Linked DNA regions of Homo sapiens. The protein of the gene in region 1 interacts with the protein of each later gene in a biochemical or structural test. Each region holds a gene or a part of one and is shown in the gene's direction. Other genes may lie near its edges.

Region 1 (3,647 bases):
AGGCTGTCTCCTTTTGCTTATTATTCAGATGAGGTATAGAAAGTAGCTTTCCCAAGTGACATCACAGAGTTATAAAGCTAGACATAGAGCCCTGACCGTGCGATTCCAACTGTGGAATTCACACAAGGCAGTTCCATTATATAAGTTCAGATTCACACACAATTGAACATGTTTTTTAGAGATACAGACATGGTACAGCCTTCAAGGGAACCAAGGGAATTACAAACACCAGCTTTAGGAGAGTACTTAATTCCTGGCAGGGAAGGACAAGGGGTGAGTTGGAGAGAGACATGCCAGGGGCTAGCAGTTTGCAGTGATGTCCTCTTCCTGCATCCAGGAGTTGGGTGCGAGTGTCTGTGTGTTTGTGATGCTTTAAGCCTGACACACGTTTCATAACGAGTGCTCAGTATTTTGTATAAGTAATTGACACGGAGACAGAACCCATGGCACTGAGGGCTATGTGGGCTCCCCCTGCATTGCAGAGCGCCTCCGCAGGGAGGAGAAGCAGCGACAGGAGCTGGAGAAGACCCGCCGGAAGCTGGAGGGAGACTCCACAGACCTCAGCGACCAGATCGCCGAGCTCCAGGCCCAGATCGCGGAGCTCAAGATGCAGCTGGCCAAGAAAGAGGAGGAGCTCCAGGCCGCCCTGGCCAGGTGAGGACCCCGCCTGCCCGCCTGAGGCCAGGTGGCCTGGGCCAGCCCTTCCTGCTTGCTGCTGGCCCTAGTTCTCGGCACTAGTGAGCTGTGAGCATTCTTTCCACTGTTGTCTTAAAAGAGCCATTTATTTCATAGCAAAACAGTTCTTGTGCACTCAGGGCATGGTGAGGGGCCTCATTTGTCTTTTGTTTGTTTATAATTTGAAAAAAAGTCATCCACAGCTCTATCACCCACCTACAATAGTCCTTTCCTAATTTCTTGCTATAGGCACACTTAAAAAAAAAAAAAAAAAAAAAAAAGACTTGACCAGGCACGTTGGCTCACGTCTGTGATCCCAGCACTTTGGGAGGCCAAGCCGGGTGGATCACTTGAGGTCAGGAGTTCGAGACCAGCCTGGCCAACATGGTGAAACCCCCATCCCTACCAAAAATATAAAAAATTCGCCAGTGTGGTGGCACACGACTGTAATCTCACCTACTCAGGAGGCTGAGGCAGGAGAATCACTTGAACCCAGGAGGCAGAGGTTGCAGTCAGCCAAGATCGTGCCATTGCACTCCAGCCTAGGTGACAGAGCGAGACTCTGTTTAAAAAAAAAAGAAAGAGACTTTATTTTTTAGAGTAGTTTTAGATTCACAGAAGAGTCAGCAGAAGATTCTCCATCTATCCACTGCCCCACTCACGCACCGCCTCCCCTGCAGTCAACATCCCCTACCACAGTGCTGTGTCTGTTCTAATTGGTGAACCTACGTTGACCTGTCATAACCATCTAAAGTCCGTAGCACATTCGTATTTTTACTGAGTTGCAGTTGTCCTGTGGTGTAGCGTTTTATTTCCTTTTCTTCCCATTTAACACATCATTTGACTTTTAAAAATATTTGAAGCAGTGAATCTTACTTTGGAAATTGAAACGATTCCTCTATGAGGTTTTCTGCTTCTCAGAGGGGTGTTGCCCTTCAATCTGGTTGTCTCAGATGTTGTTTCTGCTGAGAGCCATCCTAAGTGCCATGATTGTGACCACAGGAGGCAGCTTTGGCTGCTGCAGCTCTCTCAGGCCTGTCCTGCAAACTCTGCTCCTTGGAGGTGAAACTCTCCTTATACTGATGTTGCTGGTCGCTTTGGCAGAGTGGAAGAGGAAGCTGCCCAGAAGAACATGGCCCTCAAGAAGATCCGGGAGCTGGAATCTCAGATCTCTGAACTCCAGGAAGACCTGGAGTCTGAGCGTGCTTCCAGGAATAAAGCTGAGAAGCAGAAACGGGACCTTGGGGAAGAGCTAGAGGCTCTGAAAACAGAGTTGGAGGACACGCTGGATTCCACAGCTGCCCAGCAGGAGCTCAGGTGTGCCCTGGGACCAAGTCCCTCGGGATGGGGAGGGCAGCCAGGGGGGCCTTGGCTTGGAGACATGGACCCCGGGCCTCTGCACACACACACACACACACACCGTGGCCCTCTTAGGCACCAGCAGGCATGGAAGCTGCTGGTTCCTCAGCGGTTTCTCTCTACAGAGTAGAAAGTCTGTTGAAGGACCTGGCTCAAAGTTGGGGGTGAGGCAAGGCTGGGCTTTAAAGCTGAAAGGCTACAGAAGCTCTCACAGGGCGTATTTGAGCCTGGGCTATGGGATAGATGGCTAGGAGGGGCCGGTGGGTAGAAAAGCTGCCTGGAGTGCCTGTGCCCTGGCCAGGCCTCTCTTTGGTCAGGGAAGAGCCCCAGGGACAGCCTCGCTCCAGCATCCCCGGCCTCCACTCTGAGGGGATTTCTCTGTCCAGGTCAAAACGTGAGCAGGAGGTGAACATCCTGAAGAAGACCCTGGAGGAGGAGGCCAAGACCCACGAGGCCCAGATCCAGGAGATGAGGCAGAAGCACTCACAGGCCGTGGAGGAGCTGGCGGAGCAGCTGGAGCAGACGAAGCGGGTGCGGAGCCTCCCTGAGACCGCAGGGGGAGGGCAGGGTTCCCCGTGCTGGGCCCACAGAATCCAAACCAGTCCTGCAGAGCAGTTGCAGGGTTCTACCCAACTGCCTGGTTCTGAGGCCAGGCTCCCCTTCTAAGGGGCTTTGTGACTCGTGCCTCAGTTTCCCTGTTCATAAGGGAGGATTATGGTATGTCTGTCTCGTGATTATTTGAGGGTGAAAACATTACATCGTTACTTTGAACATCAGACTTCAGACAGGCTTTATTGGAAGTCTAACTGCAAACAATTATAGTTCCCCTTATTGCGTTACAAATATTGCTAACATCTGCAACACCAATGCCATGCCCTAGAACCTGGCCTCTACCCAGGGCAGAAGGCTGGGCAGGTATTATTTTAGAGATGGGGAAGCTGTGAGATGTCCTAAGCAGTGAAGACAGGAACCAAGTGTCACCCACCAGCTAAGAGAGAAGAGGACAGGACAGATGAGGCCCGAGCCGTCTGAGTCCAGGACGCAGGCACACCGTCGTCAGGGCTGCAGAAGCAGCGATGTCTGGATCTAGGGTCCAGTGATGATAGACCAGCCAGCCTTGTGTCAGGAGGCCCCCACTCACGTCTTTGCTTTCTTCCCTGCTAGGTGAAAGCAAACCTCGAGAAGGCAAAGCAGACTCTGGAGAACGAGCGGGGGGAGCTGGCCAACGAGGTGAAGGTGCTGCTGCAGGGCAAAGGGGACTCGGAGCACAAGCGCAAGAAAGTGGAGGCGCAGCTGCAGGAGCTGCAGGTCAAGTTCAACGAGGGAGAGCGCGTGCGCACAGAGCTGGCCGACAAGGTCACCAAGCTGCAGGTGAGGCCTCCGCCAGGACCCTGGCGCGGGCAGTGGGCCCTAGCAGCAGTTGTGGCCCAGGTCCCCAGGTGCATGTGTGCTCTCTGTCTCTCTCTCTTCTCAAACTGGCTCCTCAGACCCTCATGGTTCAGCTTGTGACTCAGGTCCAGCTTTACCTAAAGGAGATGAGGTGGGGCAGGAGCAGTGGGGGTGGGTCCATGGTCCTTTGTGTCTCCCCGCCCGGTGCAGGTGGAGCTGGACAA
Region 2 (3,747 bases), on another chromosome or scaffold:
CACCAGACCAGCTGCCTGGGTCTCCTCCTCCTTGTTGAGGTGACAACAAGGAACTCAGTTCAGCTCCTCCCTGGGTATCCAAATTATCCTTCCAAGTCCCAGACTCACAGCTGTCCTCCCTTCTGATTCAGCCCTGATGCTTTTCAGGGGGTCCCAGAAGTGGGATCCGGACTTGAGAGAATGTCACAGTTGAAAATGATAAGGATGCAAACGGAATGGAACTTTCAGAGAACCCCAATTTTCTACTCTAAGTTCTCCAAACCAACTCTCAAATCCAAGATAGCTGCCTTTCCTTTCTTCACCTCCTCTTCTTAGTTTTCCCCAACTTGGCTGCAAAGTCAGCCTCCCCTCTTCTCTTCCTTAGCACCTCAGACCAATAAAACATGCAACCTTTTCTTATTCTTTTTAAAAAATTTATTTTTGACCAGGCGCAGTGGCTCACGCCTGTAATGCCAGCACTTTGGGAGGCCAAGGCGGGTGGATCACGAGGTCAGGAGTTCAAGACCAGCCTGGCCAACATGGTGAAACCCCATCTCTACTAAAAATACAAAAAATTAGCTGGGTGTGGTGGCACACACCTGTAGTCTCAGCTACTCAGGAGGCTGAAGCAGAAGAATCACTTGAACTTGGGAGGCGGAGGTTGCAGTGAGCCGAGATTGTGCCACTATACTCCAGTCTGGGTGACAGAGTGAGACTGCCTCAAAAAGAAAAAAAATTATTTTGTTTGTTTTTTAGATTTTGTAGAGATGGTGTTTCCCTAAGTTGCTCAGGCTGGTCTCGAACTCCTGGCCTCAAGTGATCCTCTCGCCCGGGCCTCCCAAAGTCCTGGGATTACGGGTGTAAGCCAACATGCCTGGCCCCTTTACTTCTTCTTTTCTGTTTTGGTCACAAAACATTTCTCTGTTGATCACTGTAGTGTGTGTGTGGAGGGAAGTGGGGGAGGTACACTCTTAAGAAATGAAATAGTTAACATCTTGGTCCTAAGATTTGTTGTAGAGATGGAGTCTTCTCATTCTGTTCCCCAGGCTGGTCTTGAACTCCTGGCCTCAAGCAATCCTCTTTCCTCGGCTTCCCAAAGTGCTGAGATTGATTACAAGTGTGAGGTACTGCGCCCTGCTACAATCCTTTAATAGGATGTTTTTGGGGGGGGTGGCAGGGGGCAGGATCTAGCTCACTGTAACCTATACTGTTCCAGTGTAACCTGCACCAAGCCATCCTCCCACCTCAGTCTCTTGAGTAGCTAGGAACACAAGCACACATCACCACACCTGGCTCTAACACGATTTTGCTTTTTGCTTTTGTCATTTTGGCTGCTGTTCTTTTTATCTTTCATTCATTCAAGGTCTGAAGATGGAGATAATAGGAATCTTCTCATCTCAATGTGCTCTTTGGCCCCTCCTCTTAAACTGATGCCCCTCTCAGGCCCTGAGGGATTTGGCCTCAGGTTGCCCTGGAAGGGGTGTGAGTGATCAGACAGGTGACTGAGAGCTGGGACGCCTGAGGCCTGCCTAGGCTGAGTCACCTAGTAATGTTGTTGTCATTGTTCCTGTTGAAGTCCCAGCTCAGTGTCACAGACCTTTGTGGAAGCAACAACAGCTCCCATCCTTCCAACCTTTCTGGAGAAGCCGTGGCCTGATGGTGAGCCGAATGGGCTGGGGGGGGAGAAGAAGGCGGCTGGGGCGGTGGGGAGATCTGGGGCCCGGATCGGTGCCCCTCCTCCCCATGCCACTGCCACCTCCTCCTCCTCCTTCATGCCGGGGACCTGGGGGAGGGAGGATCTCCATCTTCTCTCTGTCCCCTGCCCCTCATACAAGAAGCTCCCCCTCCTCATTTTCCCCTCCCACCGCAGGGCCCCCTTGCTCAGTGCTACAGGGGACAGGGGCTTCTCAGTCTTGCCACAGTGCTCTCCCTATCCCAGCCACCCCCCCAACACAGGCTCAACCTGCAATGACACCTGCCTCTGCATCTCCCTCCTGGGGATCCCACTCCACCCCACCCCTGGCCCCGGCAACCCCCACTCCCTCACAGCAGTGCCCCCAGGACTCTCCTGGGCTGCGGGTAGGCCCTTTGATCCCTGAACAGGATTATGAGCGGCTGGAGGACTGTGACCCTGAGGGGTCCCAAGACTCACCCATCCACGGGGAGGAGCAGCAACCCCTGCTTCATGTCCCTGAAGGGCTCCGAGGTATGTGTGTGGGTGTGGGTGGGAGAGGGTTAGTGGTGCCTGGGAGCTCCAGTACTTATCCCAGGCTGGGCCTCTGGCAGCGGGTTGAGAACGTGGAGAATTGATCACATGCCAGGGGCTGACACTCTCCCCTCTGTGCCCAGGCTCCTGGCATCACATCCAGAACCTGGACAGTTTCTTCACCAAGATATCCTTTGCGCTAGGCCTGCAGAGGTGGCATGGGAAGGTCCTCTTGGAGCTGGCACTGTTCTTGGCAGGGAGACTCCGTGAGGGCGTCATGGGTGGGAGACTTGTTGGGGCTGAGGGGAGGTGTCCTCAGGAGAGGCCCCCCGTGCCTCAGGCTTGTTCCTTGACACGCAGCCACATCTACAGCTACCACCAGCGGAATGGCTTTGCCTGCATCTTGCTGGAGGATGTCTTCCAGCTGGGGTGAGACGCTTAGCCCGGGCCCGGAACTCGGTCCCCTGGGCCCATGGCTTCCTTCTGTCATTTTGCTTCCTTAATTGTGCCAGCTGCTTCCATCCCATGCTTTCCCGAGCAGCCCAAGGGCTCAGCAGGGGCAGGGTCAGGGAGGATAACCATGGGCTGCTCTGGGGGCTGGGGCAGGAGCCCACCTGGCTGTCCCTGATCACTGCAGCATCCCGGCACCCCCCCTTCCTCCCGGCAGACAATTTATTTTCATTGTCACCTTCACAACCTTCCTCCTTCGATGCGTGGATTACAATGTTCTCTTTGCCAACCAACCAAGTAACCATACCAGACCTGGGCCGTTCCACAGCAAAGTGACCCTGTCAGATGCCATCCTACCCTCAGCCCAGTGTGCTGAGAGGTTAGTGACAACCTGGTGGGGCCCTGGGGGTGAAGCATGGGCAGTGGGTAGAGGAGTAGACGGGAGCCCCACTTTGTCCCGTCATCTAGATCAGCAGTTCTCAAAGCTTTTGGTCTTAGGACCAAAAATACACTTAATATACTTTAAGTTGTACTTAAGTGTATTAAGTTGTACTTAAAGTGTATTAAGTATATCTTTTTTTTTTTTTAAGACAGAGTTTCACTCTTGTTGCTCAGGCTGGAGTGCAATGGTGAGGTCTTGGCTCACTGCAACCTCCACCTCCCAGGTTCAAGCAATTCTCCTGCCTCAGCCTCCCCAGTAGCTGGGATTATAGGCGTGCACCACCACGTGTATTTTTAGTAGAGACAGGGTTTCACCATGTTGGCCAGGCTGGTCTGGAACTCCTGGCCTCAGGTGATCCACCCACTTTGGCCTCCCAAAGTGCTGGGATTACAGGTGTGAGCCACTGTGCCCGGCCTTTTAAGTGTATCTTAATTACAGTGCATTAAGTGTATCTTAATACACTTAAAATTGGTTGAGAATCCTGAAAAGCTTTTGTTTATGGGAGTCGTATCTATCCACATTTTACCTTATAAAAAATTAAAATTAGGCCGGGCATAGTGGTTCACACCTGTAATCCCAGCACTTTGGGAGGCTGAGGCAGGAGGATTGCTTGAAGCCAGAAGTTTGAGATCAGCCTGAGCAACAAAGTGAGACCACATCTCTATAAAAA

Evidence for each region. The genes of interacting proteins can lie anywhere in the genome.
Region 2: the proteins of MYH9 (region 1) and ATG9B form a complex in vitro, tested with the Homo sapiens proteins (one study listed by BioGRID).

What each region holds. Positions count from the first base shown.
Region 1 is NC_000022.11:36,293,850-36,297,496, reverse strand, and holds part of MYH9 (myosin-9), read left to right. Parts: intron 1-482; coding exon 483-654; intron 655-1,779; coding exon 1,780-1,992; intron 1,993-2,420; coding exon 2,421-2,565; intron 2,566-3,198; coding exon 3,199-3,405; intron 3,406-3,633; coding exon 3,634-3,647. UniProt on the Homo sapiens protein: Cellular myosin that appears to play a role in cytokinesis, cell shape, and specialized functions such as secretion and capping. Required for cortical actin clearance prior to oocyte exocytosis. Promotes cell motility in conjunction with S100A4.
Region 2 is NC_000007.14:151,022,312-151,026,058, reverse strand, and holds the start of ATG9B (autophagy-related protein 9B), read left to right. Parts: upstream 1-1,564; 5' UTR 1,565-1,635; coding exon 1,636-2,185; intron 2,186-2,328; coding exon 2,329-2,372; intron 2,373-2,549; coding exon 2,550-2,614; intron 2,615-2,852; coding exon 2,853-3,014; intron 3,015-3,747. UniProt on the Homo sapiens protein: Phospholipid scramblase involved in autophagy by mediating autophagosomal membrane expansion. Cycles between the preautophagosomal structure/phagophore assembly site (PAS) and the cytoplasmic vesicle pool and supplies membrane for the growing autophagosome.